2 linked regions of the Homo sapiens genome follow. The protein of the gene in region 2 interacts with the protein of the main gene of each other region in a biochemical or structural test. Each region holds a gene or a part of one and is shown on either strand. Other genes may lie near its edges.

Region 1 (16,927 bases), on a different chromosome or scaffold from region 2:
GCTAGACAAATCTCTATACCCTTAGGCTACGTGTCAGGAATTTGAGGTATCTGTCTCTTTCACAATGCCTTCTCTGGCTCTCTGGTCTACCCAACCTCTCCCTTGTTATAATGCCGTGGCCCTTCTGATTTATTTCATCATTTGAACTGTATGCCTTAAAATATGCCCAATGATACCCCTGAAAATATGTAATTCTCAACTTGAACTGAAAAAATTCACCCTGTTGAAAGGAATCTCTGGGTCTCCAGCCCCTAACGCGGGCATTGGTGTTAGAAAATAACAACAGTGCTTGTTTTTTAATTGCTCCTCTTTCAAAATCTCCTCCTGAAACCATGTGAAAAGCACAGATAACTTTACAGGCCACAGAAAAACTGACCTTGTCAGCCCTTAGGATTCTTGGATCCTGGAACATTAGTTCCATATTTTAATTATTCCTTTCCTTAGAGAGAATTCTTTAGGGCTGGACATTTGAAAGGTCTGTTCAAAAAGAATTAATGAGGTGGTCTTTGTTTAACAACATCAGGGCAATCACAATGGTGTCTCCACAAACTTTCTAAAAATTGTCGTAACATGGGGCATGTGGTCACTTCAGAAATAGACACCTATAGCTTAAAATAAAATGGCTAGGGTGGAGGTTGAGCACAAAGGTACCTGAGATAGACAAACAAAATGACAACAGGAAATAAGACCTTTTATTTTATAACAGGGCATAACAGGGACTAGCAGGGTCTTAGTTCCTGTTGCTAGGAGTTACATTAGGCTTCTAGCAAAGTAGCATATCTCCTGTCCAAAGTTTTCAAGCATTTTATCTTTTGTCCTGTCTTCACATTTGTTACTATTGCAACTGCTACTGGTCTAAACAGGGCCCTCTCTCACTGGGATGTGAAGTCCAGGGCTTGACATACTTCGTTCTCCTTGGGCAAGGTCTGGGGGGTGTTTGGTTGATTTTGCTCTCACCTGGATGTTCTCTGTTTGGGGCTTTGCATTCTCACATTCCAAGGCATCTCTTGAGTGTTCTGCTGCCGCCTGAAACTCAACATATCAGAAACAGGCTAAGTATTTCCTAAACAGGCCTGTCACTTCTTTTCATAATTTTTCCGACTTTCCTCATTTCTGCTATTTGTGTGTAACTCAGAAATTGACTGGTTGCCCTCACACATGTTAATACTGTTTCCTCAAGCACATGTCGCAAGCTACCTTTGATCTGACATGCTCTCCATTGCCACAGCAACAGCCCACTGATGTTCTCCAACCTCCATGAACAAGTGATCCTAAATCATCTGATCCCAAATATCCAGGGATCCTCGTCATGACCCTTGAGAGTATCCGTGTCCAGAGAGAGGCCTGAGGTCCTCAGCTACCATCTCTTTGGTGCAGTTCCAGGAGCTATGCACAAGTAATGGGGAAAGGTACTGGCTTTGTCTTGTGTAAATCACACCATCTTTCACAGAAAGCATGGAGGCCCAGAACAAGGGACAGAAGGAGAAGAAAAGGATTGAATAAAGAAAATAAATTGGTTCATTGTTTGGGTTAGATTTCTGTATACCCATCTTCCCACTTGTTGGGAATTGGGAGTATGAGGATAAAGAAACTAACACTTAAACACTACTTACTATATGCCAATCATTTTGTGTGTTATATTTCATTTAATCCCAGAATAAATCCATAAGATAGATATTATCATTATATTTTTTATACTAATGAGGAAACTGAGGCCCAAAATGCTAGGCAACTGGTCTGAGGATCCACAGCCACTAAGGGGGAAAAGCTGGGTTTGCTGCTGGCAGGTCTCTTCCTCTGAGACTGAGCTCCTCTCATGAAGGGATGAGTGCCATTCTATTCTGTGCAAAATTTCCCTGACTTCTTAGCTTATTTGATCTGGAGAGACACGGTTGGGGGGGTATGCTGACTAGATGATAACTGGGTGTTGGGGTGACAATGAAAATTAGATACCAATATATACAAGACTTTTGAATACGTTAACGGAAACATTTTATTTAATTATTTTAATGAATTTATTTTTAAGACTGGGTCTTGCTATGTTGTTCAGGCTGCCCTCAAACTCCTGGGCTCAAGCAATCCTCCTGCCTCAGCCTCCTGAGTAGCTGGGACTACAGGTGCATGCCACTGCACTTGGTTCAAGGGAGACCTTTTAAATCATCATAGAAATAAAGATGTTGGGCAAACTGATCAACTATTTGGAAAAAAATTTACATCTGACACCATATATTGAATATATGTTGCCAAATGTAAAATAACAAAATCAAAACTTATGTGAGTTGATTTGTCTTATCTTAGGAAGAGCAAAGAATTTTAAGCATGAATGCAATGGCAGAAACCAAAAAGCTTTCTAGATTTAAAATCGAATTTTCTTTAAAATAAATAAAAAACCATAAGAAGTCCAAATAGCATAAGATGTGTGCACCTTGGAAAAAGGTTTTTTTTCTTACATAAAACAAAATTTTAAAGTAAAAAAATTTTTTTAAAGTTTTTTTGCACTTATTCAGTGCACGTGATATGCCAGAAACAATGCCAGGAACCAGGAATTCAAAGATAAATAAGAAACAATCACTACATTTGAGCATCTCATATCTAGTAATAAAAATAGTAATTTATATAATTGTTAGAACAATGCTAGAGTAGAAGATTGACAAGGGGCTGTGACAACCCAGGGTAGAGAAGTCTCAGACAACATGATTCTTAGGAAGGGACATGAGATATTCCACAGGACCACCAATCCTCTTTTCGGCAAGTGGTCAAAAGTGGGCTACCATTTTTTCCTGTGTTCCACTCTCCAGTAGCATGAACTGAGACCAGGGATTCCAAACATAACCCTGTGAAGACCCCCTCTGGCTCGCTTACTCTCTCTAGATCACCCCACTTTATACCCTAGAGATTACCTTGTCTGTGGTGGCACTATTTTGGTGGCACGGCTTTGATATTAAGGAAGATGATGGTCAGAAAAAGAAAGCAGAAAATATCTTCTAATTTTGAACCCTACTTTATGTCAGGCACTATGCTAGCACAATACACACTAGAACTCTCTAAGGTAGATATTGTATTATTATTTCTACTTAAAATAAAGAGGCTGAGGTCCAGAAAGTAAATCTGAGTTCTGTGCCTATTTAATCTAGATGACCTCTGCTTACCTGCTTGCAGGGAGTGCACATCAAAGGAAGACTCAAGGTGGCAGGAAGCTTGCTGTTTATTTCAAACTTAAAATAGTGGCTGAAAGAGGGTGGTGATTTTGACCTCCTTGTGGAGCATGAGGAGCTCAGGAGAGCATCTCCTTCCCGGGCTTTCAGAAAGTTGTTTCATTTCTTAGGTGGTAACCTATTATATAGACCTTCCTTGGTAAAGTCTTTCCACCTTTCAGCTATTCTCCATCAGCTGCTCACCATGATTCTTGGGAGAAGGCAAAACCTATGGGAAATTTAATGTGGTATCTGGCACAGAGTAGGCACTGAAGGCTTGGCAGTTTCCTTACCCAACTACTTTCTACCCCAACTTAGTGTGCTAACTGTATACTAGCTTTCTTTTTCTCTTCCTTGCTGTATTGTCCTGTCCCATCTCCTCTGCTCTCCCACAGGGAGTCTAGACTTACCTGTTTTCTCTCAGCAGAGAATTTCCCATCCTCTCAGTCCTCTCAGGGCTTCCCCTCCGTCCCTTTACCACTTCCTTCTTGCCTTGTGCTCTGACAGGGCAACTCCTGACTTAAAGAAAGGGCTGTGTGGCTCTGGCCACCCGTGCAGAGACAGCAGAAAGGAGAAGGGTGTCTCTGCAGAGGGAAGGAAGAGGCTGGGGGAGGAGTGTTAGAGGCACGCATGTGCAGAATGTCCTAACATGTCAGTGCCTGAACCAACCTGGCTGTTGGCCATAACCAGCAACTACCCGTCAATGAGAGCTTCGAACCTCTGGGGAATCCCAGGTCTGAAATTACAGATGGGCCATGGGAGTTTTTCCACTACAGATATTTACGTTTATAAATCACGTTGTCTTCTTAGAAAAGTCAGAAGGAGGTTAAAACAGTCAAGCCACAGACCTGTAGAAAATATAGTATCAACAACTCTCAAATCTGAAAACAAACACCCAGTAACAAAATGGGCAAAATATTTGAACAGACATTTCACCAAAGGAACTATACAGATGAACATTAAAAGATGCTAAACATTGTAGTTATTAGGGAAGTGTAAATCAAATCCACAATGGAACACTTTTACATACTTATTACAATGGCTATAAAACCCTGACAATATCAAGTATGGCAAGGTATGCAAAGCAACTGGAAGTCTCATGCATTGCTGATGAGAATGCAAAATGACAGCCTTTTTGGAAAGAAGTGATAAGGACAGAAGGCAGGGCTTTACTGGGTAGAAGAGGGTGGTTCACTGGCAAAGGTCCCACCCTCAAGCCTTGAAACCGAAGCCCTAAATGAGAACAGTTATCCCTGTTATCCTGCCCAAATGTTACTCTTTAGCCTGTCCAGCCCCCCTATCCCGTGCCCATATAAACCCCAGACCTCAGCTGGCAGACAGACAAGCGGCTGAACATCAAGAGGAGAAGAAGCAACTGAGTGTCAGAGATGTGGCTTAACTTCAGGTGGCATGACTTCAGGGAGGAGCCCGGCCAGAGACAGCAGACTTCAGGGAAAGGTCACTTTCTTCCTGCACCATCCCCTTTGCAGCTCCCCTTCCACTGAGAGCCACTTCCACCATTTAATAAAATCGTCCACATCCATCAACTTTCAAACCATTCATGCAACCTGATTCTTCCTGGATGCTGAACAAGAACCTGGGTACCAACAGGGCAGGGTGTAAAAGGCTGCCACCCTGACTCTCCATTGAGTGGGTTAACACTTAGCTGTCCACGGATGGCAACTGCTAAAAGAGCATGAATTGTAACACATCCCTAAATGCTGCTGTTGGGCTGGAGCCCAAAAGTGCTCATCGAAGCCCTGGCACCCGCTTGCCTGCGTGCTCCCGCTCCCACAGAGAGTTTGAGCATGGTGGTGGCCAAGTAAGTAGGCCACACCCCTGTCGCAAGTCCCGAGAAGGGGTCAAGGGAACTCTCCCATCTCAGAAGTATGGCAATTTCTTATAAAATTGAACATAGGGTTACTGTACAACCTGGCAATTTCACTCCTAGGCATTTAGCCAAGTGAAACTTATGTCCTCTAAGACTGTGTGTACAAATTTTTATATGTGCTTTACTCATAATAGCCGAAATACCCTGGAAATAGCCCAACTGATCTTCATTGAGTGAATTGCTAAATAAGCTCTGTGTTATATTACATCCACACAACAGAATCCTGACCATCATTGAAAAGGAGTGGACTATTAATACATGCAATAACTTGGATCAATCTCAAATGCATTACACTAAGTGAAAGAGACCAGACTTAAAGCCTACCTTCTGTGACATTAGAGATAAGGTGAAACCACAGGAACAGAAAACATATTAGTGTTGCCAGGAGCAAAAGGTGGGGGAGGTGTTGACTTTCAAAGCACAGGAGGAAATTTTTTGTTGTTGTTCTTTATCTTGATTGTGTTAGTGCCCACATGACTGTATGCATTTCTCATAATTCACAGAACTGTATACTAATAAGGGTGCACTTCACTGCACATAAATGAATCTCAACAGACAAAAGGTTAAAAAAGAAAGAAATCTCGGGACAGGAATCATGGATTTTTGTATTATCCTTGTATTTGATGGTTGTTTCCAGTTTGGTCACTCATCTGTTTGTTCATTCCTTTAACAAGTATGTGTCGAGTGCCTACTATGTGCTGGGCACTGTAGGTTCAATGGTAAGAAAAGCAGATACAGGACTGCTCTTGTGAAGTTCCTTGAAAGAAATAAAACAAAGTGCAAAATATTTTATTGCTTGTCCTTGAGTAATGTAAAGGTCATATCTAAAACAGGCAGGAGAAGGATGGGGAGTGGGCTTAGAAGAAACAATTTCAGAGAAACTAGGGTACTAGCTGTGCAACCCCAGATTCATCTCACATCATTCTTATCCTTATGGCTGCTCTCCAAACTTCCTTTTGGCTCTGTGAGGGATTTCCAGGAGCACCTTATTAAAAATGGAAGATTTTATTATAAAAGATAAGCCATTATTGATCATTCACTTTTCTAAAAAAACACAAATGTGAGAATAAAATAAAAACACACAAGACTCACTAGCCCCTGCAAGACAGAAAGCAGCCCTGGACAGAGAGCCTCCTTATTATATACCTAATGCCTGAACTCACACATTCTAGGGTTTCATGTTTTGTTACCTCTTGCAAAGGATAGGAAACTGGCTAGAAAATTCATGTAAAGGAAGGTCACAACTTTAAAGCTATCTGACGCTAATGACTTGTATAATCTAGTTTGCAGCTCTGAGAGACAATATCAAATAAGCATTGTCAAATACTACTCCCACCTAACCTTTGCTGTCATTGTTCTTTGAAATTATCTTTGGGATTGGTTATGTTCTCTCACTGTAGCTTTCGTTTATCTCAGAGCACACACCCTAATGTCCATGTGCAGTCTCCATGCTCAAGTATTCCAGAATACAATTTTCTGGAGTCTAACTTCAGTTGACACCTGACTCCAAATTGCAAATCTACCTCCAACCAAAAAGAAATGAGAAATTAGTTTTTAAGGGCAATTAGCAAATATATTACAAAAATAATTTCAGATAAACGCTATGTGACAAATGGTGCTGTCAAGTCCTCTTATGTGAATACTAGTCATTGTTTGTCTTGAGAAAATGTGTGCAGTGGAGGATATCTTCTTGGCATATAAAAGGGGAAGATTTCTTTCTGTTTTAGTAATCTCTTTAGGGGATTGCCTGTGGTGTGCATTACATTCTGGTTGAATATTCAGAAATAAAAGTGTTTTCTTTCTCTTCTATTTTTGTGGTGAGGTTTTCTGAAATAGCAGGAGATTTTGCTTTTAATTCTATTTCCCCAATAGTAGCTCCATTAATTTTTTTCATGAATCCCTCATGTAATTGACTCTAGGAAAGATGTTAGGGTGGTAAATTTTCTTATTCTGTAAATATTTGAAATTCAGGAAAACCCTCCCATCAATAAATTAAATGAAGCATTGAAGTAAAAAAGAATATTCTTAACAAAGCTTATATTGAAAATCAGGTTTCCACAGCATATAGATCTAAGAAACCTGGGGGTACCCTTGTCTGTTTCTCCTATTCTCCTCTTTCAAAACCATTTCCTTTCCCAGGCTGGATAATTACAATAAAAAATAGAGTATGTGTTCCAAATTATTGAATGCTTCTTCCTTGTGTATGGAAAATCTGGGATGACAACCAGTGGTCTGCCATTTTGTGTACGAGAAAAAGAGGTATGTATGTGTGGGAGTCGGAAGGAATCTTGGTATACTATTATAACTAACCTCTCTCTTCCCTATTACCTTCAGAAAAAAAGAAAAACAATCAATCTAACCTAAAAGTGCCCCTTCCTCAGTGGCCTCAGCACATTTTGCACTACCTAGAGGCTAGCAGCAGGGGACCAGAATGTCTTAGCATTGTGAAAGAGAGACCACATGGACAGGGTGCTTAGCCAGTGAGTAGGGCTATTGTTGACTTCCCACCAGTATGAATGAACAGATCCTAGACCCTAGTTGGGGCAGCCTGAGCAGACACAGCCTGGATGCTGCTCCATGTGTGGCTTAATTAGTTCCACTATTGTCTAAAAGAGTCTTTGAGTCCAGAGAGCCATGGTAGGGTGAGTTGGAAATCAATCTGCCCATTGTAATTTAGGGGAAGGTTAGGAATTGCTTTCAAGCTTCTGTTTTACTCAGGCCGCTAGATGGAGAAGCTGAGCTGTGGAAGTGTTAGCTATCAATCACTTGTGTAAAGTAGCATGAAAGAGCAGGATATTTATAATAGATTTACTGCTGTAAAACTGACTCTGGACTATAAATAATATATCTCCTCTCCGTAAATGAGTAGAGCAACACACCCCCACACAAAGAAGCCCAGATAACAAATCTTTGAATCATAGATTCACTCTTTATTCTTCTCAGTGTTTAACTCCAGTGCCTAACACGTGTAAGAAACTACATTTCTAACACATGTAAGAAACCGTATGTGTTGAATTGGAAATAAAAGCCTGGATATTTGTAAGCAGATGATAGGGAAATCAGAGAACGTTTGGGTTGAGATCTTTAAATTTACTTTCCTATCCTTTGGCATTGCTGTAAAGAATTAATGACCAATGACTGTTTTGCTATATCCTTTGAAGATCATAGAAAAGTATAATTACAATAAGTATTTGTTGAGAGCTTTCTAATAATCCAGTAATTCTGTTAAATGCTTTAGATACAATTTCTAATTTCTTCATGTAAGAATTCTGTGGAATAAATACCATTTCCTCTTTGTTGTAGATGAGAACACCAGGCTCAAGTGACTTGCTCAAGGATATCCCAATAGGAAGTGACAGAGCTAAGATATAAGTTCAAACGGGGTGTGGATATATCTATTTGTTGTCCTATTTAATAAGTACTCATAGAAAGACGTCTTAGCTTGACTTTGAAACCTGGTCTACATCACTCCAATGTGTCAATAAGGAGCAGTATATTTGCATGTAGTGTGTCAAGGCTTCCCAGTTCTTACGCAGTTTTCACAATCTGGGCTGGCCTCAGCACAAGGCACGTTAGAGACCTTTAGGGTAAGAGTGAGTGATAAGAGTGATTCTAGATACTCCTGCAGTTTCAAAGGCCTAGATGGGATAATTCTAGCCCTAGCCCTAGCCCAAGCCCAGTCACTTTCTGGCAATGGTGAAATGAGGGAAGGGAATTAGGAGAACTAATTATACAGAAAGAAAATTATTTTGGGGCATTTTATTTTGGGAAAAGAAGTGGTTTATTTAAGATTTCTTACAGAACCAGGAGTCAAATAGCTTAGTTAAGACTTCCCTATTCTGCTTCCCTTTAAAAGAGGGCAAAGGCTGCATGGTGAGAGAGTACTGAGGAATCTTCCTGAATAGAACTTTCTACCTATATACTTTGTGATACAGAATATGAGCTGATTAGTGGTCCTAGCTAATGTCAGATAGTTGTGTGTTTGAAAACTGTAACTATTAATTGCTGCTATTCCATATAAAAAATATTTTGTTTTAAAGAGGAGATAACAGAGTTTCAGTAACTCTCTAGGTGAACGTTGGGGTTAGACTTTTGCTTTGTGGTGAAGAGATTTCAGCACATAGCTCCATTGGCTTTGCAGGAGCCATGGTAATCCAGAGATGATTGCCTAGAAACAGAATGGGAACTTTTTCAGTTCACTGGGAATGCTCTCCTAGCTGTAACCACCAGGAGGGTGGGACAGCACTTCTCTGAGAATAAATGACCCTTGGGAAGAATGTTTCTTCATTTGCAAAGTTTCCTGTTTTTCATTAGTAAAACTAATATAGAACATGGAAGATAAGTCAAATATCTGCAGAAAAAGTACAAACCAGGTTTAAGCATTATAAAAGTTAAAGAATAAAGCTAAATTACAAAAATATTCAAGGGTCAACAGACCAAGGAAAGCCTTTTATATAAAAATTTTAAAAGCAGACAATATTCTGGGCATTGTAAGCAAATAAACAGCTTTCCTCTGAAGAGCCAAATGAAAGTGAGCTCTAAGAACCTTCCTCAGCCAAAGTCTGTACATTACATTCTTTCAGGTAAAAACAGAGCCCTAGGCACACAACCCACCATGCCCTGAAGATGAGGCTGGTTATATACATCATGCATGGTACCAGGATTTTATATTCCAGTGTCTTGTGTAGTGGCCTTTTCCCACAGGGAGATGTTTACAATCCAGTACACAAACCTAGTCCATGACATTGACAATAACTAATATAATGGAGTGTATGCAATACTTCTTCAATGGCTTAAATTTCCATGATAAAATCTAAATAACTTAAAAAGCATTACACTGATTGTGCTTGGAGGATTTAAATCCATGTCATCATGCCTAGCTGTGTGACTTTGAGCAATTTATTTGTGTGCTCTAAGCCCCATTACTTCCTTGGCAAAATGGGACTAATGATGGTAAGTACCTCCCAAAATTCATATGATGACTGCATAAGCTAATGAGGGAAAAGCACTCAGAATAGCGTATCAGAAGACACATTAGGCTCTCTGTAAGTAACATTAGGCTCTCTGTAAGTAACAGCTACTGTTGGTGGAGAACACTTCTTCCCTCTCTAGGTCCTTGCTCTAGATCAAGGGCTGAAATCTCCATTGCCTTTATATTGCTGCCCATCTTCATTTTCTCATTTGTTCTACTGAAGTGCGGTGGTTTATTTGGTTGATGTATTTGGAAGTAGAGCCTGGACATTCTGTGTTAATCCCCTTCTTCTTGATACTTTTTGGAGTAAATTTACTCTTAGAAATCTTGCATTTTCTACTGTTCTCAGCTATGCATTAAGCTTAATGACAAATGCCTACAGCAGTCAATCTTTTCAGTTCTAGGGAAAAGAAGGCAACCACCTTATCTAATGTCAGCTCCATCAGTAATAATGGTGAGCTTGTGAATGTTTTAATCTCTATCTGCTTTAACCCTTTATCATAATTTTCAGTTGGTTCAGAACTCAGGAGAGGAGGGGTACTCATTAATGGGGTTCCTTAAACACTTAACAGCTGTCAGGTAATTATCACTGGGAAAAAACTGGTTAAGGTTAGTTTTGGAGAGAAGTGGTAGCAGTTTGATTTGACTTTGTCAACAGAAACAAACCAAGTTGTCTTTTCCACAAGGACACTTTTGTGACAGGAGTTGCCATACTTGGCTTCTAAAATGTGCCCACCACCAGTTATTTGGCATAGCATTCAGATTTCTAGACCCCCAGGTGGAAGTCTGACTCTGAAGACTTATCTTTAAATATATATTTTTTTTTTTTTGGAGATGGAGTCTTGCTCTTTCACCCGGGCCAGACTGCAGTGGTGCTATCTCAGCTCACTGCAAGCTAAATTTTTATTAATTCTTCAGATATCTATTTAGGGCTTACCATATTAGGGGGATATGTGTTATAACTTGTTTTCAAATCTCTGCTCTGCCTCTTCCTAGTTGTAAGATTTTCAGTTTACTCATTCATAAATTGGGAATAATTGTACTTACCTTATATGATTGTTACAAAATGAGTTCATCATAACTGTATGGCATGTGTTGTATGCCTAACATACAGAAAGCATGCACTAATTCTTCACTGTTAAGACTATTATCTAAAATTACATACTAGGCATTGTGCTTGTTGCTGTGAGTATAATGGTGAATAAAGTGATTACTGAAAGTTTCACTCAGGGCTAAGTTGCCTGATTCAGTCTGAATCAGTTTTCATTCCTCACTATTATAATTCTCTGAGAGCTACCGAGATGAGTGAAGTACAATGAGTGACAAAAATCAATACTTGGATCAAGAACAGCATTTAAACTATATTTTAATACATTTTATTTTTCATAAAGTGAACCAAACCATTATTGCTGTAAGAGCAATATGCAAAATATCTAGATGGCTATAAACTTATTTTCTGGCTTTAAGACTAAAATTTACTCTAAGATTTTCTAAAATGTTTTGTATATTTAAAATAACAAATATTTTAAATCAAGGAAATTTTGCAAAAAGTATATATGTTGAACTGCTGGTTTCAAGGTCCAAATTTCTTTTCTGCTTAGCACCAAGATCATCCACACAGGATCCAACCTGAAGTTACTCCTTCTTGATGTAGGGAAGTGTGTTTCTGCAGCAGGAGGCCTCTCATAGCCACAGCATTAATACATGCTTCGGTCTTCTTAACAGTCTTACTCTTTCCTAATAGAAGCGGAAAGAAAAAACAAAAACATAGAGGGCTTTTGAATCTTTCAATATTGACTTACAACCCAGAATAGGATGTACTAGAGGGTCAATTTGACTCCCATAAGACACACTTGGTCATTTTTGTTAAGGCCAAGGAAGGAAATTGAGCAAGTGAGTGTGAATCCCTTGTCACTCATAGAGTGGTGGCAGAATGATTTAACCTAGGAGTCAGAGTCTGAGAAGCCACTGAAGCGTGCTAAAATGAACAGGCATAGTTTATGGATTGTCAGGAGGAGGATTGTCCATTGTGAGAAGCATTGACTTAATCCATTACCACTCATTGAGCTTCAGTTCTGACTATAAAAACCCCCTTCATCAAACCAGTATTGCTGAACGTAAAGGGTGTTAAGAAGAAATAAATAACTTTCACATAATTTATATTTCAATAATGTTTAATAGTTTCATAATCATGCTTTTTATTATAAAATCAATAGAACTGCATAAAATAAGAGAAGTGATCAAAACCACTCCTATTCTCATCCTTCTAATTCCATAATTAAATAACTTGTATTGATCTTTTCTAGACCCTTTTCATGTTGAAAGATGTATATATATTGTATGTTGCATATTTTGCCTTCCTCTTCATATTTTACATTGATCTATACAACCAACCCTTTTAATGGTTGCACAATATTTCCTCATATGGATGTTCTGTAGACAATCTCGTTGTTAGACACTTGGGCTCTTTCGTCATTAGAAGTAGTAGTGCCTTGGACGTTTTGTACACATTTACTGTAAGAATAATTTACTTTGGATTAATCCCTAGAAGCATAATCACTAATTCAAAGTGTGTGAGCATTCTTATAACTTTGTTACAAGTTGTTTTTACTCTTCTACCAGCAAAATATGAGAAAACCAATATCCCTCAGTTTTCATCTATTTCCTCTTCTGTTTCAAAGGAAATAGATGTTACCAATGAATAAAAAAGTTGTCAATTAAAAAAGCAAATGTTAATAATTTTTTTTAAATTCTGCATTTCTTAGATTACTATTTTCTCCATTGTTAGGTATTGTCTTTTACTTGAATTGCTTATTCATAAGTTTGCCTGTTGAAATTACAGTGTTTTCCTAATCATGTTGTACACATTAGTCCAAAGTAAAGATATTGATCTTATTGTAAGCAATTAATTCTTTTTTTGGACCATTCTTGAACTGCTTTTATTATTATAGGATTATATAAGAAACTGCTGACTTGGGTGTCCTCCTGCCAAGAAGATTATCAATCTCCAGCACCTCCTTGTATTTCCTTCTGCTTTCTATGACAGTATTACTTTTTTGAGGTAAAAGAGATCAATGCATTAAACATTACCTAAATCATTCTGACTTAAATTCAATATACAAAAAAGAGAATATCTTCTGATAATATATGAAAGTATTCTTTGGGCAATAATAAAAAAAAATCCTTTTCTTTCCAATTTTTATTTTAGATTCCAGGGATACATGTGCAAGTTTGTTACCTGGGTATATTGCGTGATGCTGGGCTTAGGATTCAAATGATTCCATCACCCAGGTACTGAGCATAGTACCCAGTAGTTAGTTTTTCAACCCTTGACCCCTCCCTCCCTGCCCTCTGTAGAAATCCCCAGGGTCTAATGTTGCCATCTTTATATCCATGAGTACCCAATGTTTAGTTCCCACTTACAGGTGAGAACATGCAATATTTGGTTTTCTTTTCTTGTGTTAATTTGCTTAGGATAATGGGTTTCAGCTGCATCCATATTGCTGCAAAGGACAGGATTTGGGTCTTTTTTATGGCTGTATAGTATTTCATGGCATATATGTACCACATTTTCTTTATTCAACCCACCACTGATGAGCACCTAGGTTGATTCCATGTCTTTGCTATTTATTGTAAGTGGTGCTACGATGAACATGCAAGTGCATGTGTCTTTTTGGTAGAATAATTTGTGTATATATATATATATATCTCCAGTAATGCCATTGCTGCATCAAATGGTAGTTCTGTTTTAAGTTCTTTGAGAAATCTCCAAACTACTGTTCATAGTGGCTGAACTAGTTTACATTCCCACCAACAGTGTATACATGTTTCCTTTTCTCTGCAGCTTCATCATATCTGTTGTTTTTGTCTTTTTAGTAAGAGTCATTCTGAATGGTGTGAGGTAGTATCTCATTGTGGTTTTGATTTGCATTTCTCTAATGATTAGTCATGATGAGCACTTTTTCATGTTTGCTGGCTGCTTGTACGTCTTCATTTGAGAAGTGTCTGTCTATGTCTTTCATGCATTTTTAATGGGGTTGTTTTTTGCTTGTTCAATTGTTTAAGTTCTTTATGGATTCTGGAAATTAGGCCTTTGTTGGATGCACAGTTTGGGAATATTTTCTCCCATACTGTAGGTTGTCTGTTTATTCTATTGATAGTTTCTTCTGCTGTGCAGAAGCTCTTTAGTTTAATTAGGTCCTACTTGTCAGTTTCTGTTTTTGTTGCAATTGCTTTTGAAGACTTAGTCATAAATTATTTGCCAAGGCCAGTGTCGAGAATAGTGTTTCCTAGGTTTTCATCTAGGATTCTTATGGTTTGAGGTCTTACATTTAAATCTTTAATCTGTCTTGAGTGAATTTTTGTATATGGTGAAAGGTAGGGGAAAGAATGAAATAGTTTCAGTTTCATTCTTCTGTATATGGCTAGCCAGTTATCCTAGTACCAGTTATTGAATAGGGAGTCCTTTCCCCATTGCTTGTATTGTCAACTTTGTTGAAGATTAGATGGTTGTAAGTGTGGGGCTTTAGTTATAGGTTCTCTATTCTGTTCCATTGGTCTATGTGTCTGTTTTTGTACCAGTACCATGCTGCTTTGATTACTATGCCTTATAGTATTGTGATGCCCTGGCTTTTTTTTTTTTTTTTTTTTTGAGACAGAGTCTCGCACTGTCGCCCGGGCTGGAGTGCAATGGTGTGATCTTGGCTCACTGCAACCTCCGCCTCCTGGGTTCAAGCAATTCTCCTGCCTCAGCCTCTTGAGTAGCTGGGATTACAGGTACCCACCATCAAGCCCAGCTATTTTTTTGTATTTTTAGTAGAGACGGGGTTTCACCATGTTGGCCAGGCTGGTCCCAAACTCCTGACCTTGGCGTCCTAAAGTGCTGGAATTACAGGTGTGAGCCACCACACCCGGCCATTTTTTTTCTAATTCTGTGAAAAATTATATTGGTAATTCAATAAGAATAGTGTTGAATCTGTAGATTGTTTTGGGCAGTATGGCCATTTTAACAATATTGATTCTTCTAATCCACAAGCATGGAATGTTTCTCCATTTGTTTATGTCATCTGTGATTTCTTTCAGCAGTATTTTGTCATTCTCCTTATAGAAATCTTTTACCTCCTTGGTTGCATGTATTCCTAAGGTTTGTGTGTGTGTGTATATATTGTAAATGGGAGTGTGTTCTTGACTTGGCTCTCAGCTTGAACATTGGTGTATGGAAATGCTACTGATTTTTGTACATTGATTCTGCATCCTGAAACTTTGCTGAAGTTGTTTGTCACCTCCAGAAGCCTTTTGGTAGAGTCCTTAGGGTTTTTTAAATATAAAATCATATTGTCTGTAAAGAGAGATAGTTTGACTTCTTTTTCTTTTTTGGATGACTTTATTTCTTTCTTTTGCCTAATTGCTTTGGCTAGCATTTCTAGTATTATGTTGAATAGGAGTAGTGGGAGTGGACATCCTTTTCTTGTTCCAGTTCTCAAAGGGAATGGTTCCAGCTTTTGCCTATTCAGTATGATGTTGGCTGTGGGCTTGTCCCAAAAATAATAGGAGCTTGATGGCTCCTATTATTTTGAGGTGTGTCCCTTCAGTGCCTAGTCTGTTGAGGCTTTTTATCATGAAGGGATGTTGGATCTTATCAAAAGCTTTCTCTATGTCTATGGAGATGATCATATGGTTTTGTTTTTGATTCTGTTTATGTGGTGAACCACAGTTATTGATTTGCTGGATGTTGAACCAGTCTTGCATCCCAGAAATAAAGCCTACTTGATCGTGGTATATTAACTTTCTGATGTGCTGCTGGATTTAATTTGCTAAAATTTTGTTGAGGATTTTCACATCTATGTTGATTGGGAATATTGGCCTGTAGTTGTCTTTTTTCATTGTGTTTTGCCAGGTTTTGATATCAGGGTGATGCTGGCTTTGTAGAATGAGTTAGTGAGGAGTTCCTTCTCATTGATTTTTTGAAATAGTTTCAGTAGAATTAGTACTAGCTCTTCTTTGTATATCTGGTAGAATTTGGCTGTGAATCCACCTGCCCTTGGCTTTTTTTTTTTTTTTTTTTTTTGGTTGGTAGGTTCTTTTTTATGGATTCAATTTTGGAACCTGATATTGGTCTGTTCAGTTTTTCAATTTCTTCCTGATTCAATCTTGGGAGATTGTGTGGTCCCAGAAATTTACCTATTTGATATGGTTTGGCTGTGTTTCCACCCAAATCTCATCTTAAATTCCCACATGTTGTGGGAGAGACCCGAAGGCAGATAAATGAATCGTGGGGGCAAGTCTTTCCTGTGTTGTTCTCATGATAGTGAATAAGTCTCACGAGATCTGATGATTATATAAGGGGGAGTTTCCCTGCCCAAGCTGTCTTCTCTTGTCTGCCACTATATGAGATGTGTCTTTCACCTTCTGCCACGATTGTGAGGCCTCCGCAGCCACGTGGAACTGTAAATCCAGTAAACCTCTTTCTTATGTAAATTGCCCAGTCTCAAGTATGTCTTTATCAGCAGCAGAAAAACGGACTGATACACCATTTCTTCTACATTTTCTAGTTTGTGTATGTAGAGGTGTTCATAACAGTCTCCAAGGATCTTTTGTATTTCTGTGGGATTGGTTATAACGTCACCTTTGTCATTTCTGATTGTGTGTATTTGGAGCTTTCTTTTTTTTTTTAATCTAGCTAGTGATCTACTGATGTTGTTTATCCTTTCAAAAAACCAACTTTATTTCCATTGATTCTTTGTGTGGACTTTTATGTCTTAATTTTGTTCAGTTCTTTTCTGATTTTAGTTATTTCTTTTCTTCTGCTAGCTTTGTAGCTCATTTGTTCTTGTTTTTCTAGTTCCTAAGGGGTGAAATTAGATTGTTAAT
Region 2 (16,249 bases):
GGATATTAACTGCAGATGAGCACAATTTGAGTCCTGTGCTTCTCTGCATCCAAGGAAAAAAGAGAAACATATATAACATATAAAAAGACAAAAAATATAACTTTCTGTGGCAAAAATAGATCCTATGGTTTGTCTCATCCAGGCCATTACAGGGATCTTAAACTTCATTCCGTATCCTGCTCCAGACTCTTATCTCTCATTGCAAAGAAACAAAGGAAAAAAGCACAACCTATTCTCTCAAGATGACTATGTTTTAAAAACCCAACACTGATCTAATTATGATATTCCTCACCCAAAACTCTTTCATGGTTCCCCAGCATCCCCAAGGTAAAGCCCAGACTTTTCAGCTTGGTGTATTAGTTTCCTATTGTTACTATAACAAATTACCACAAACTTGGTGGCTTAAAACAATACAAATTTCTATCTTTCAGTTCAGGAGGCCAGGAGTTCAAAATGGGTTTCACAGGGCTAAAATCAAAGTGTCAGCAGACCTGTGTTCTATCTGGAGGCTCCGGGGAGAATCCACTCCTCATCCTTTCCAGCTCCTAGAGGCCGCCTGCACTTCTTGGGCTGTGGCCTCATCACTCTGACTTCTGCTTCTGTCCTCACATCTCCTGCTCTCTTATTTATTTATTTTTTAAAATATTTTATTTATTTATTTATTTATTTATTTATTTATTTATTTATTTATTGAAATGGAGTCTCGCTCTTGTCACCCAGGCTGGAGTGCAGTGGCACGATCTCGGCTCACTGCAACCTTCGCCTCCCGGGTTCAAGCGATTCTCCTGCCTCAGCCTCCCAAGTAGCTGGGATTACAGGCACCTGCCACCATACCTGGCTATTTTTTATATTTTTAGTAGAGATGGGGTTTCACCGTGTTGGCCAGGCTGATCTCGAACTCCTGACCTCAAGTGATCTGCCCGCCTCGGCCTCCCAAAGTGTTGGGATTACAGGCATGAGGCACCGCCCCGGCCCCTGCTCTCTTAATCTAATTCCCCTGCTTCCTTCTCATAAGGGCCTGTGGTTACACTGGGCCCACCTGTATCATCCAAAATAACCTCCTTTCATCTTTCTCCAAAGTCCTTCACTCAATCAAATCTGCAAAGTTCCTCTTGCCTTGTAAGGCAACATATGCACAGGGTTCAGGGACTAAGACATGGACATCCTTGGGGCCATTATTCTGCCTATCATGCTTGGCATTCAAGGTCCTCTGCCGTCCAGCAACAACCTGCCTTTGCACTATCCCTCTGGTATCTCGTGTCCAAACACACCACATTTCTCACCATTTTCTCAGACATACCCTGAATTTCACTGCCTCTGGCCCAGAATGCCTTTTCCCTGGCCATAAAATCCTATTTATCTTTCAAGCACAACTCAAATGTCAGCTCCCTGACATGCTCAGCTGAGATCACGGCTGAGTTCCTTGGTCAGTCTGCATGAATGCCTAGTAAAGTGCTCATTTTGGTGAGTCTTCCATCATGGCTGTGTGAGTGTGTGTCCATCTCCAGCATAAGACTGTCAACTCCATGGGGCAGGCAGGGACTGTTCTTGTACATGTTGTATATCACTGCCCCCTTATATAGAGTGGCTGGAATGTGTGTTCAATGAACAGCACACACACATACAAATACACACTCTTCTGTTCAGGCAATAATGCAGAAGAAGGGAAAGAGCTCTATGACCACTAATTGTTTTTAGTAAGCTGTCTGTAACAGTGAAAAATAGGATTATATTCCGTAATTTTTGAACCAGCAATTAGGTCTGGTTCAAAAATTATGGCATATCGAAATACTGGAATATGGTGAAACTTTCCAAAGTGATGAATGTAAAGGCCATGCATGCAACAACATGGAGACAAAGTACCTATGGAATAATGCTGGGGGAAAGCGCTCTGAATATACTTGCTGCCCATTAATGCCAGCTATTCTCCTAAAGCACAGACATAACTGTGTGAGTCTTCTGCTCAGAGCCTTTAATGAGTCCCCGCTGTGTAGACAGAATAGGCTCCCCCGCCTCAGCTTGGTCTACATAAGGCCTTCCTCATCTGGCCCAAGCCTTTCTTTCCATCATTCCTTTCCACTCTGCTGTGTGGCACAGATGGTCTGCCGCAAGGACGTCAAGGGTCACACTGCAGTGACCACAGGGCCCAAGATATTCTGGGACCATCCCAATTTAAAATATTCTATAGCACTGTCACACCATGTCAGATTTTTTCTCAAGCCACCGTCAACGGTTTGCTAACCCCTGAATCTGCTGTGCCCTGCTGCCTTTGCTCATGCTGTTCCATTACTAGGAACATCCACCGACCCCTCCCTACCCCTATCTCCATGAGTCCAAGTCTTACCCATATTCCAAAGTCTGACTCTGATGCTACCTCCTAAATGAGGCCTTCCCACATCCTCCTAGTCAGAATGAGTCTCTCCTTCTGGTACCACTCTGACAGCATTTATCACAGTCTGCCCCATACTAGAGCTGGGATGGCAGACAGGGTCCCAGGACTGCCACTGCTGCCTCCCACCTATCACTTATATCAGTCCCTGACCACAGCATGCTTTTGTGCTGAGGCCAGGTGCAGCACCAGGATGTTGACACAGCACCCCCAGGCACCACTAGCAAGTAACTGAAACTGTTAGGTGAGCTGAAATCTCTGTTCCATCCCTGCCTGGGGGTACTTCTGTGCCCATTTCTCCAGGCTAGAGTAAGCTCCCAGGGAGCAGAGCCTGCCCATGTTGGAAGTGCTCAGTAGTGACTGCCGAATAGAACGCCTACACGGAGTTCACTGGAAGGGCACATAAACACAAAAGCCGCTGTGTTACTGGGGTGGGATGATGAGTGAAGTCTCTTCTCTGCTTGCATCTGTACAGTTGTTTCCGTAAAGAGTGTTTTCAAATGGAGGAGAGACAGGGAGGAGGTTAACAAAGATGAAGGAGGGAAACAGCAGCACACACCTCACAACGGGGTTTCCGTGGTACAGGATGTAAATGCCAGCCTCCTTATTGGAAAAGATTTGATTGTTCCGGATGATGCCTTTCCCATTGCCAAGGACGACAATGCCAGAGCGAAGGCCATGGTGGATCTGGTTACACTGCAAGTGAAAATGAGACACCACAGAAGCCAGATCAGACACGTCAGCGAAGCAGAGTGCCCAGGTGCCGCCCACACCTCCGCGGCAGGATGAACACAGTGGAGAAAATGACGTCACTGTAAGAGCCCTAGCCCGTGACAAAGGGAATGGGTCACACTGCCGCCCTGCCCTTCCTGCACCAGTACACACATGAAAACCTGTAAGGGAGACTATGAAGACTGGAGTCTTCGCTGCCCAGCCTCTTAGGAGGGCTCTTGGTCTTCACCTGCAAGGCAGGCTACTGAAAGTTTCAGAGCCTCTAATGAGTCCCCTAAACACATAATCATTTGGCCAGGCCATAACTTCTAGGGTCCAGGGAGGCCATCTCTTGAGGAAAGGCAGCACCCCAGTGCAACCAAATGTTGGCCAACTGCAGTCCTAAAGGGGCCACATCCAGAGAGGGGTCACAGTTGTTTGACTTCTAGTCCTTTCTCATTTAGGGAGGGCCAGCGGAAGATGCAGACACTGGGGGGCCAAGCTGTCCCATGGGGCATAAGGTCTTAGAAGGTGTATGAGCTACAGAATGCCAAGAGATATCTTTTTTTTTTTTTTTTGGTAGAGACAGGGTTTTGCTTCATTGCCCAGGCTGGTCTTGAACTCCTGGCCTCCAGTGATCCTCCCATCTTGGCCTCCCAAAGTGCTGGGATTACAGGTGTGAGCCACCACACCCGGCAAGATATTCATTTCTAATATCTCTTTGTGCGAATGGGAAAACAGGCCCACGATTATATAGTACATTTGTGGAAAAGCCAGATCTGAAATCTAGTTTTTCTCTTTCCCATTCCAGTTAGTTGCTTTTGCACAGTGACTTAATATTTTTAGATTAGAATAATAATAAAATTATCTCACTCTAAGTTAATTTATAGCTGAAGTCCAATTCTATACTTTGTAAATTGGGAAGTTAGCTGTATCTCTTCCAAAATGATTTCGCAGAAATAAAGTTCTAGTTGGCTTTAAAGTGTTTCGTGTGCAAACTCTCCTTATTCTTACTCTTTCCAGATTTTTCCTGAAGGATTTGGCAGGCTCATCAGAGCAACCACTGCCTAAGAGAAGTCCCGCACAGGGCTGAAGAGCTCCAAAAGGAGTATGCAGCAGCATTTCCATCCCTACACCCTTTCACAACGCCAGGACTAAAATATACCACTCCCTTCCCCCTCCACCTGCTATCCCTCTGTCCTCAGAAGGGCAAACCCCTCATCTCTCTAGCCAGAGGGGCAATAATTTCCTAAGCCAAAGCCATGCATCAACCACCAGCTGCATGGTAGAAACACAGTGAGGGGAAGGGGTTGGCAGGAGACACTGGCTAGCTGTGTGTATTTTCTTTTTCTTTTTTTGAGACAGGGTCTCGCTCTGTTGCCCAGGCTGGAGTGCAGTGGCACAATCATGGCTCATGACCATGCCATAGTTATGGCAGCCATGACCTCCCAGACTCAAGTGATCCTCCCACCTCCCACCTCCGCCTCCCAAGTATCTGGGACGACAGGTGTGAGCTACCATGCCCAGCTAATTTTTATAATTTTTTGTAGAGACAGGGTCTTGCTATGTTGCCCAGGCTGGTCTTAAACTCCTGGACTCAAGTGATCTTCCTGCCTTGGCCTCCCAAAGTGCTGAGATTACAGGCATAAGCCACTGTGCCCAGCCTTCTCTCTGTATCTTTATGGGCAGTTAAGATATGATGGGTTCAGCATTACCCGTGAGTCAGACTGCCTGGATTCAAATCCCAGCTCTGTCACTAGGTGTAGGACTTTGGGCAGGATCCTCTGCCTCTTCAGGCTCTATATCTTTACTATAAAATAGGGATGATAATAATTCTTCACAGGGTTCTGTAAGCATTAAATGACAAGTAAATATCTATGAAGTGCTTAAAAAAGCATCTGGCGTATAATAAGCATTATGTATTAATGGTGGCTATTATTTTTTCAAGCCCATAAAAAGTCTGTTATATTTCCCAACTCCTAGGAAATCTGTCTCTCAGTATACATGTAACAAAATTCCTCCCATACCCCATAAATCTGTGTAAAAACAAAATAAAAAACCCCCAAACCCCAAACCTGCTTCTCAGGAAGAGCCAGAGCAGAAAAGGAGCTGGTCTCTCGTGTCACTGGCCACACAGTCTAGGATTTTAAGTGGTTTTCACACGGGTAGAAAATCAAACTCAATATGCCCTCACAATAACCACGAAACAATCTTCAGAACTAAATACCCGAAATGTCCTCTTACACAAGTGAATAAACTAACTTGGTGGGTTCGCTGCTGTTGTTTTTGTTTGTTGTTGGATCCAAGTGTCTTTAGGGCAGACATCACTCTCTTTAACCTTATCAAACTCAAAGCCAACCACAGCATATGAGGGCTGAGGGCCCTGTGAGGTTTCCCTGTCTTTCTGGTCCTCCTCCTTATTAACGGGGAGATGACCAGAAAATGACTTGTCCAAAGTCACTGCTAATACACAGACAGAGACACAGAGTCACAAGGACACGCAGAGGACAGAGCAGGAGCCACCTGCAAACAGGAAGCACGTAAATACAAGAGGGCAACGTGTATTTAAATATCCTCACAAATGGTTTCTGAAAACCAAGAGTCACCCTGAATAGGGAACGAACACAAAGTACCAGTATGAGTGGGTTGGACTTTTTCCGGATGTCTACACCAGCCTCTGCATTGTGGTAAATGTTGTTGCCGGCAATCAAGCCACCGCCCTCCAAGCGAAGAAAGATGCCTGACGCTCGGCAGCGGTAAATGTCGTTCCTGAGCATGATGATCTAAGCAGAAAAGAGAAAGCCATTTATTTTCCTGTTACAAATATTTTTTTAGAAACCACTGGAGGAACACCTGAGTCTTTTCCGCACCACCTGATCCATGCAGTTTACCCCGTAGGCAAGAGAAACGCCTCAATGCTGGCACAGCCACGCTCCCACTGTGTGCTCCCAGGACACAGCCATCTCCAGGCCCTACCTGGCTTTGCCCTGCAGGCTCCTTAGCGGTCTCACATTGGTTCTTTTTTTTTTTTTTTTTTTTTTTTGAGACAGGGTCTTGCTCTGTTGCCCAGGCTGGAGTGCAGTGGCATGATCTCGGCTTACTGCAAGCTCCGCCTCCCAGGCTCACGTGATCCTCCCACCTCAGCCTCCCAAATAGCTGGGGCTACAGGCTAATTTTTGAATTTTTGTTTATTTTTATTTTTACTATGGATGTGGGCTGGAGTAATTTTGTTGTTAACTTTTCTATTTTTTGTAGAGATGGAATCTCACTATGTTGCCCAGGCTGGTCTGGAACTCTTGGGCTCAAGCAATCCTCCCACCTTGGCCTCCCAAACTGCTGGCATTACAGGCATGAACCACTACACCTGGCCCACACTGGTCCTTTAACTAAAACCTGGACCAAAGCTTGGCCCTGTGCTCTATATTCAGAACCTGCAAGCAGCATAGCTGGATGATGGGATAGAAAGGACGCTTAGGGGAAGATGGGACTGAGTGGTCTTCAAACTTTACATGCACTAAGTTTGCATGAAGATTTCCCCAGGGGTCGAGGGTGCAGCTACTTTTAATGAAATAAAGTTCCAGGTCCACCACTTCCAATGCACCTTCACTAAAATCCACCTGTCTGAGACGGCACGGACAGTAAGGTACCACACAGGTTCTCCTCTCCCACCTTCCCTTCCACTTTATAAAACAAAGGCCTGTTCTTGCACATCCTAAATCTTTCATGGTGTATCACCCTGGGGTGGAAAACTACTGAGACTCCAAATGAAGGGATGATTAGAGATATTGGTATAACAAAGCCTCCTTCAAACAAGTTCCCATAACCAGCAACCTGCTAATAAAGGGATATATTTCCAATTACATTTTCTTTTTATGTTTAATAAGTACAGTTGTCTCCCCCATGTCTGTGGGTTCTGCATCCATGGATTCAACCAACTGTGGATTGAATATACATTATTAAAAATAATAAATAATAAAATTGAAAAACAGGCCAGGTGTGGTGGCTCACGTCTGTAATCTCAGCACTTTGGGAGGCCGAGGTGGGCGGATCACTTGAGGTCAGGAGTTTGAGACCAGCCTGGCCAACACGGTGAAGCCTCGTTTCTACTAAAAATACAAAAACTAGCCAGGCATGGTGGCAGATGCCTGTAGTCCCAGCTACTCAGGAGGCTAAGGCAGGAGAATCTCTTGAATCAGGGAGGCAGAGGTTGCAGTGAGCCGAGATTGTGCCACTGTATTCCAGCCTGGGCGACAGAGTGAGACCTTATCTCAAAAATAAAATAAAATTGAATTAAAAAAAACAACAACAGTATAGGCTGGACGTGTTGGCTCATGCCTGTAATCCCAGCACTTTGGGAGGCTGAGGCGGGCGGATCACCTGAGGTCAGGAGTTTGAGACCAGCCTGGCCAACATGGTGAAACCCCATCTCTACTAAAAATACAACAAATTAGCTGGGCGTGGTGGCTCATGCCTGTAGTTTCAGCTACTTGGGAGGCTGGGGCAGGAGAATCGCTTGAACCCAGGAGGCAGAGGTTGCAGTGAGCTGAGATCACATCTTTGCACTCCAGCCTGGGCTAAACAGTGGAGACTCCGTCTCAAAAAAAAAAAAACAAAAAAAACACAACCAACAAACAAAAAAACCCAGTAGAAGAGCTATTTACATAGCATTTGCATCGTATTGGGTATTATAAGTAATCTAGAGATGACTGAAGTGTGGGAGGATGTGTGCAGGTTAGGTGCAAATACTATAACATTTTATATAAGGGATTTGAGCATCTGTGGATTTTAGTATCCTGGAACCAAGCCCCCACGGATACCAAAGCATGATAATATATAAAAAATCTGGAATGTTTATCTATGCTGTCTTAAACAATTATAGATTAATAATAAAATATATTATTATAAATTGTGTACTACTAATAATATATTGCATTAGGACAAAATTCTGTGAAGACTAAAGTAGAACAAGAGTATAAATGGTAAGGTTTCAGCTTCTGCTTAGGATGGAGAAAGTAGAAAGAATATACACAAACATGGACTTTCTGGTGGAACCCATCAGAGCTGAGGCTGCTGGACAACCGGCTAGCCTGAATGCTACAAAAAGACAGGTGCCTTTCGGAGCGTGCAGTGAGCCCAGATCGTGCCACTGCAGTCCGGCCTGGGTGAAAGAGTGAGACTCCGTCTCAAAAAAAGAAAGACAGGCGCCTCCAAGGAGACGAGGCCTGAGCACTTCCCTGCTGAATGCAGGGCTGCATGTGTCATACAAGCCAGTAAGAACTCAGCTAACATTTTCAATGCACTGTTAAAGACCAGCTGTGAATTAGTGTGAGTGCAGAAACTCTGGGAGTAGCTGCACCTGTTCACTTCTCTGTGGCCTTCACTAGGTGTTCATGGAGAAAACTGGGGGCAGATGAGAGACTGGAGACAGCACCCTCCTGACGCAGGCTGGGGACAAAAGTGAGAGAGGCATTAAGCCCCTCTCCTGTGTTCTTTCCCCCTAACTCTCTTACAAAACAAACCGTATGCACAGAGAAACAGCGGGAAAACACTCTTATCTCTGGGGGTGTTGGGAGGAAAGTGACTTAGGCCCAGATCATCAGAGGTCCCCTAGTGCTGGGGGTAGAGCCAGGGTCACTGAAAAAGTCCTGCTCTCAAGACCACAGACACAGCACCTACCTAGACTAAGGATGACCCAGGACAAGAGAGAAACCCTGCCATCACGTAGGGTGACAAATAATGGCAGTCTACTGCTGAGGGAGGGCGAGAGCAGCGGAGATCGCCTCTGAGCAGCAGGCACAAAGGAAGATCTGAAGCGGAGAAAACTAGCACGAGGTAATGCTGGAGAGAGCTGAAGCCTACGGGACGCTGAGGATAATCCTATCATCACCATAATTCAAACGGGCTCAGCTCCTAACTAGATCGACCTCCTAAGAGCCAGGCAAAAGAAGAGGTGTGCCCATTTCCAAACTAAATACTACAGAGCTCAGTCCCCACTGTCCTACATGAGATATCTGACTTCCAACTAAAATTTATGACACATAAAGAAGAAAATCACAGTCGGTGACACTTCTTTTTTTTTATTTTTTTTTTGGAGACGGAGTCTTGCTCTGTCACCCAGGCTGGAATGCAGTGGCGCAATCTTGGCTTTCACTTGCAACCTCCACCTCCCGGGTTCAAGCAATTCTCCTGCCTCAGCCTCCCGAGTAGCTGGGACTACAAGTGCCCGCTGCCATGCCTGGCTATTTTTTTTTTATTTTATTTTAGTAGAGACGGGGTTTCACCGTGTTGCCCAGGCTGGTCTCGAACTCCTGAGCTCAGGCAATCTGCCCGCCTCAGCCTCCCAAAGTGCTAGGATTACAGGCTTGAGCCACAGCACCCGGCTGACACTTTTCTTCTTGGAGCCTCAAGCAACCAGGCTCCTCCTGCCAGCCTTTACCCTCCTGGGATGTTCTAGAGGACAGAGCCAGGTGACAGCCTTCTGTGGGGGAGCAAGGATCAAGGCCTTGCTTGAAAGGGTGAAAGGGTGTGTCTCCCCTTACTTCTGGGCCTTCACACACACCTCCTTTGCCTCGCGTCTTCACCCTGCCGACTTAAGGGGCAGAGCCAGACTTTAACTAGAAAGCCATATTCTCAATAACTATGCAAGGAAGAATGCCCTCCTTGAGGGCTTGAGCCAGATCCTTTCATCGTGGTAGTCACGACAGCAAAGCTATTACCTTTCCCTTTTTATTTGGCCATTTTCTTTTATGTATGTGTACAGGAGTCTTGCATTATGCTTTCAAAGTAACATCACCTGAAATCCTCTTTGGAAGTGGGCTGGGTAAAACACAATTAAATTTAAATTAATTAAAATGTGATTGCTATTAACCATTTTAGAAGCCTGCAACACTCATGAGTGACCTTTGTACAATGTTCTTTAGTTTACTGAATACTTCCGGCATGGGACCTTCCAATAGCCAGTGAGAGAAGAAAAATAGGGATGCTTATTTTCATTTTACGAAAGTGAAGGTCATGTTCATAGTGAGTTAGTGGAGAGGTGAGACTCGAATCTAGGTGCTATGCCATGCTTTCTTCTGCATGGGCTGTCTTTCCCTTCAGAAGGCCTTCCTGTCATCAACCATTTACAGGATTTGCAGATTGTCCTGTGGTGCCCTAAGTCCCAGCACATAGAAGGTGTTGATTGTCGCAGTGGCTAGAAGGACTGTTCTTAGCATAAGGCCCAAATGTCTCAAGGGGGATTCCAGGTCTGGGTAAGGTAGCTTTTGCTCACCCCCAGCTTCATCCTTCAACCTAGCCCCACCGCATGGTTGAATTCAACCTCACACCCAGGCTCTGGCGTAGGATGTTTCTGCTGTTGGGACACCCTCACTCTCCACCCCTTCTTATCACGTGTCCAATTTTCCCTGGACCTTCTTCTCATTGTACCCAGCACAGACGTTTCCTCAACAACCCTACTCCAGTTTGGAGTGAAGGTAGTAATCATATCTCCCTGAATTTTCTCTTATCCAGGCTTTGTTTCTCCTACTCCGACATGGTGAGATATGTGAGCAGCAGCATGACATAGTGAAAAGAGGCAGGAGACCCGAGTTTCTAGTCTCAATTCTGCCTAACTTGCTATGTGACCCTGAGTAAGCCACGTTCTCTCTCTGGGCCTCTCTTTCTGGGAAATGAGAAAAAGCGTTTCTGTCCTTTCCAAATCAGATGATGGGCATGACGTCAAGCGTGCGTGAATAAGTTTAAAGAAAATTATTTTTAAAATGCAAAATAGCCCCATCAAACCCTTCCTACATATAGCCACAGGAGCCCCCTGACCAATCTAAAGTCATGACAGCACCTTGCTATTATGTATACACCGCACTGCGTAAGTCAGGTTCCGGAAGATGTTTCCTTCCATCTTGGCTCTGCCGTGGGAGCAGACGAAGACGCCTCCCTTCCCGTCCCGGAAGAGGCACTTGCGGATGAGGCAGCCCTGCACGGAGTTGGCCAGTGCCATGGCCTCCTTATCCTTCTGCAGCTCCTGCTGCAGTGAGTTCAGCACTAGGCAGCTGGGCAGCTGAATGGATGCTCCTGGTAGAGGTGGGCCCAGAAATGAGCCCCCCAATACAGGGCGTGGGCCCTGCACTTGGTAGGATAGTCTGTACATCAGCTGGTCCTCATCTTCATCCTCACCGCTGGGACTCAGGCCTCCATCGCTGCTGTCCGGGGTCTGGGCCACCCTTTCACCATCACTACCCACCTCTGCCTCCTGTGAGCCAGCCTTGGAGCCTGGCTTTGGGGAGCTAGAGGCTGGGCTGGTAGGGCTCTGGCTGCCCTCGATAACAATGTCACAGGTCTTTGGGCTCCAGGCCTGGTCCCGGCTCTCTAGGTCCAGGGACATTAAAAAGTCAGAGTCCTCTGTGGGGAGAAAAGTGGGTGAGGACTTGATAAGCCCTAGTAGATACTTGTAGGCCCAGTTCTTATCTGCAGATGGGTGACCCTCAACAGTCACAGAGTTGTTTTCACTGCCCACAAATTCACAGTTTTCCAGGACACACAGGGGCACGTTGTGCAGGAAGATATGGGTGTTTTTGAAGGTACAGAACTTCACTTGGCAAGTACCCGGGCCATGGACCTGGATGTGCCCGTTCTCAAAGTTGCAGTTGTCAAACTGGACGTGACCTGATGTTGTCTGGGGAATGAAAAGAAGAAAACGGCTGTAAGAGGGATGAGATTGGTTTTGGACTCTAGCTGCCCTTTAAGGAGGGTAGAACATGGAAAGGCCATTTGTTCTGCTGATCATCTTCCCCTCCCCACTGGGGTCTGGATGTCAGCTGTCCCCAAAAGGAACTGGGGAGCTGCTCTGCATCAGAGAGGGAGGGAAACTGGAGCTGCCCGCACCTCCATCCTTCTAATCTCAAAGGAAGGGAGACAAGTAGATGATGGCAGAAAAGTTCACACTGCAGCATGACTCCTCCTAAAACCTCAAGTCTCAATCACGTGCCAGGGCTAGGACAGGCAGTGAGAGAGGCCTAGCCGCATGTGCTGGCAAAGAGTTCTGACTGTGTGGCAACTGATGCACGTGGTGCACAGCAAAATATGTCTCTAAAGAGAGGGGACAAGGTATACTGCCATTGCCAGGAAGCATTGAACAGTGGTTAAAAGCATGGGCTCTGCCAGGTGTGGTGGCTCACGCCCGTAGTTCCAGCACGTTGGAAGGCCAAGATGGGCAGATCACTTGAGGTCAGGAGTTCGAGACCAGCCTTGTCAACATGGTGAAACCTCATCTCCACTAAAAATACAAAAATTAGCTGGGCGTGGTGGTGTGCGCCTGTAGTCCCAGCTACTTGGGAGGCTGAGGAATGAGAATAGCTTGAGCCTGGGAGGCAGAGGTTGCAGTGAGCCGAGATTGCGCCAGTACACTCCAGCCTGGGCGAAAGAGCAAGACTCGGTGTCCAAAAAAAAAAAAAAAAAGCATGGGCTCCGGGGGTTGACTGCAAGTGTTATCTTGGACAAATGACTTCACCTCTTTAAGCCTCAGTTTCCTTGTCTGCAGCATGGGGCTCACTAGTTCACAAAGCACCATGCTAGGCACAAACTTAGCACTCAATAAAAGTCAGTTATTATCATCTGGGGTCAGGGACACAAGGAGCAGAGTGTCCTCAAGAGTCTGGAGTGGGGATGGGGCAGTGCCAAACTCTCCTGCCTAATTCATTTGGGCCCCTTGGCTCTGTGGGCCCAACTGAGAAGCAGTCTTGGTGAGGCCCACTCACTCTCTATTCCTGAAAAAGAGCTGTTTCTGGATTTTATACATATTTCATCAGATGTATTTGAATCATCAAATGAGGGAGTATCTCATGATTCCATTTAATAATCCAGACGTACCTACCCCTTGAATAAGTTTTAAAATTGACCTTTGATAGATTGTCCCAGAATTTAAGCCCCCTTAACTTTTCTAATTTCTTCCTTATGGCTAACCTAATTTTTCCTTGCTATTTAAATCCATTTTCTCTCTAAAGATAAAAAAGCCAGCTCTCTGGAGATGCAGAGCCACTGCTAAGGTTCTCCTTAGAAGTCACTGAAAACTGCTGTGAAATCGCCTTGGCCTTTGCATTTTTCAGGCAAAGCCATCCCAGGCCCCCATGTCTCCTTTAGTTGAAAAACAATCATGGACTGAACACTAACTAATATATGTTATATGCTAAGCACTAAGCCACAGGGCAGGCTACAAACAAGTCTAACGCCAGGCCTCATCCCTTGAGGATCTATGACTATACTTCTGAGGGAGAAGTAGAGGCTGAAATCAAAATATTACTCTAAGAATAAATGTATTACAAAATGTGAAGGGTCTGGAACATTATTTCTTTCTAGAAACAAACTCTCCTTCTGGGCCTGCAGACCAGCACCAGAGAAGTTCATCAGTTCTTCTGAAATGCTCTAGGGCTAAAACACAAGCTTTTAAGCTTTCAGGTAACATAGCATGATGTAATTTTATAAGCATTTAGATGAGAAGGCCTGAATTTGAGATCTAACTTCCCTAATTACCCACTTGAGAAAGTTACTTACCAACTGTGACCTTCAGTAGCCCTCATTTGCAAAATAGGCATACCACATCTACTTCACCTACACAAATGTTTGCTGTGGGGGTCCAATGAGGTCACAGATGGAAAGTCACCTAGATTATGAATAGACTTTGGATCTTACTAAGTCTGAGACCTTGATGTCACTTAATCTTGCTGAGCCTCAGTTTTCTCATCTATAAAATCAGATGACATTACCTATCTCAGAGGCATGTGGAGAGGAACCCATGAGATAATGGCTATAAGGCATATGGCATGCACACACTACATCTGTCACAAATGACCAGTGGTATAAGGATCATTACAAACATGAGAGACAATTGTTATTGGCAATATACTTTTAAAAATCATATATATATGATTTTTTTTTTTTGAGACAAAGTCTCACTCTTGTCCTCCAGGCTGGAGTGCGATGGCACCATCTCAGCTCACTGCAACCTCCGCCTCCCGGGTTCAAGCGATTCTTTTGCCTCAGCCTCCCGAGTAGCTGGGATTACAGGCACCTGCCACCATGCCCCGCTGATTTTGTATTTTTAGTAGAGACAGGTTTCACCATGTTGGTCTCGAACTCCTGACCTCAGGTGATCCACCTGCCTCGGCCTCCCAAAGTGCTGGGATTACAGGTGTGAGCCACTGCACCTGGCCAAAAATCTTTTATTTTTTATGAGCAGGCAGGAAAGCGATATAATTTTTATTGACTACCTACATAATCCAAGTTTCTAGGCAATGTATAAGCTATAGACTGTTCTGCCAGGAACTACCAACACCTGGATACCTGCTTTACTTTGAACCATCTTCTGGCTCTGCATTCACGGAAGGAATATGTTGGACAAATATTTTCTAACCTTCTCACCATTGCCCTTGAGAACTAGCAAATCATGGTAAAAGCCTGCCCTTCCTTGATCCCACACAGGGTGGGGTTCATGTGCTGAAGGTGACTAGTCCTGTATAGCCTTTTTCCTCTGTGGCTCTCACTCTGGGCATGCCTCCATGAGCAGCTAATGGGCTCTCTGCTTCCTGTCACCAAGTGGCATGCTTCCAGAACCTGGCTTTCCCGCCGCTGCTAGACTGGTGGCTCCAGTTGGTCCAGTTGGAAAGGGAAGAGGTGCAAAAGAATTTTGGTTCCAAGCCCAAGCCATTTTTAAATACTGCTTTACCAAGAATAAAGCAGAATTCTGAACTCTACTGATCACTGTGCCTGTTTCTCAACTGGTTCAGCACTCAGAGGAGTATGAGTATAATAATAACTCTTAACTTTCAATTCCAACAAAAAAAGGGATTAAAAGCCCAGAAAAGAGGGCAAGCCTCTGGGGTCAGAACTAGAAAGGCCGTCTATTGATGTGGATACCCACCTTATACATGATGGGTGAGAACCAGGCTGGCGTGAAGACGAGGTTGCACAGGCGTGTGGTTGAGCAGTGCTGATCAATGCTGGCCAGCAGGGCCACTTCACCCAACTTCCCCTGCCCTACAATCTCCACAGGCACCTTCAAGATGATTTCACCTTGCTCTTCGTACACACCTGGGAAGAGCACAATTCGGTCATACAGGCTGGCCATGGCCAAGGCACTGCCCAGGCTGTCAAACTCACGGCCTGGCCCAACACTCAGGGTACGTCGTTCCCTCCTCCGGCGGAATAGAGAAAAGCAGATGGAAGACTCCAAGTCCAAGGCATTCTTGGTCCATGTCTTGGATGCAAGGTAATGCTGCTTGAAGGCTTCTCTCCAAGACTCAGGCTCCACATCTGGCTGGTTGGGCCAATTGGGATGGCGGCACTCGGTGCAACCCAGACACAGCTGCCGCCAGCGGGTGCTGTCGAGACTGAGGATCAGTTCATACCAGGCCCTGCATACCAGGCTGCAGCGGCCCAGGTCGGGAAGGTGCAAGTAGGCTAAGATCATGCGCCACAGCTCCAAGGGGAGGCCACCAGCCTCCATGGTCACCTAGGAGACAGACACAAAACAAAAGAGATTTCTGTCTATCCTACTTACCAGTCCCCCTTTTTTATTTTTTTGAGATGGAGTTTCACTCTTCTTGCCCAGGCTGGAGTGCAGTGGTGCGATCTTGGCCTCACCATAACCTCCACCTCCCAGATTCAAGCAATTCTCCTGCCTCAGCCTCCCAAGTAGCTGGGGTTACAGGCATGCACTACCACAACTAGCTAATTTTGTATTTTTAGTAGAGACCAGGTTTCTCCATGTTGGTCAGGCTGGTCTCAAATTCCCGACCTCAGGTGATCTGCCCGGCTTGGCCTCCCAAAGTGCTGGGATTACAGGCGTGAGCCACCACACCCGGCCTCCAGTCCCTTTCTTAAAATACCCCCTGCCATCTCCTGAGCCCAAGGGTGAGCAAATAAACAAGGCTCAGCCAGTCAGAGGACTCCATCCTTTCAATGTGAATCCTACTCTAGATTTTTCCACCAGGAATTAGCAAGGAAGACTCTCTTTTCTCTATGGTCAGATGTTATAAAGATATGACTCCAGGCCGGGCGCAATGGCTCAGGCCTGTAATCCCAGCACTTTGAGAGGCTGAGACAGGTGGATCACCTGAGGTTGGGAGTTCAAGACCAGCCTGACCAACATGGAGAAACCCT

Evidence for each region.
Region 1: of the proteins of FBXO10 (region 2) and GCSAM, one has a biochemical effect on the other in vitro, tested with the Homo sapiens proteins (one study listed by BioGRID).

The regions. Positions count from the first base shown.
Region 1 is NC_000003.12:112,129,488-112,146,414, forward strand, and holds the start of GCSAM (germinal center-associated signaling and motility protein), read right to left. Parts: upstream 3,762-16,927; 5' UTR 3,634-3,761; coding exon 3,605-3,633; exon of another isoform or gene 1,041-3,604; coding exon of another isoform or gene 1,027-1,040; coding exon 958-1,026; exon of another isoform or gene 1-957. Other genes in the region: SLC9C1 (solute carrier family 9 member C1), read right to left, coding at 11,785-11,794. UniProt on the Homo sapiens protein: Involved in the negative regulation of lymphocyte motility. It mediates the migration-inhibitory effects of IL6. Serves as a positive regulator of the RhoA signaling pathway.
Region 2 is NC_000009.12:37,526,176-37,542,424, forward strand, and holds part of FBXO10 (F-box only protein 10), read right to left. Parts: intron 15,600-16,249; coding exon of another isoform or gene 15,594-15,599; coding exon 15,009-15,593; intron 11,769-15,008; coding exon 10,935-11,768; intron 5,884-10,934; coding exon 5,734-5,883; intron 3,086-5,733; coding exon 2,949-3,085; intron 1-2,948. UniProt on the Homo sapiens protein: Substrate-recognition component of the SCF (SKP1-CUL1-F-box protein)-type E3 ubiquitin ligase complex. Mediates the ubiquitination and degradation of BCL2, an antiapoptotic protein, thereby playing a role in apoptosis by controlling the stability of BCL2.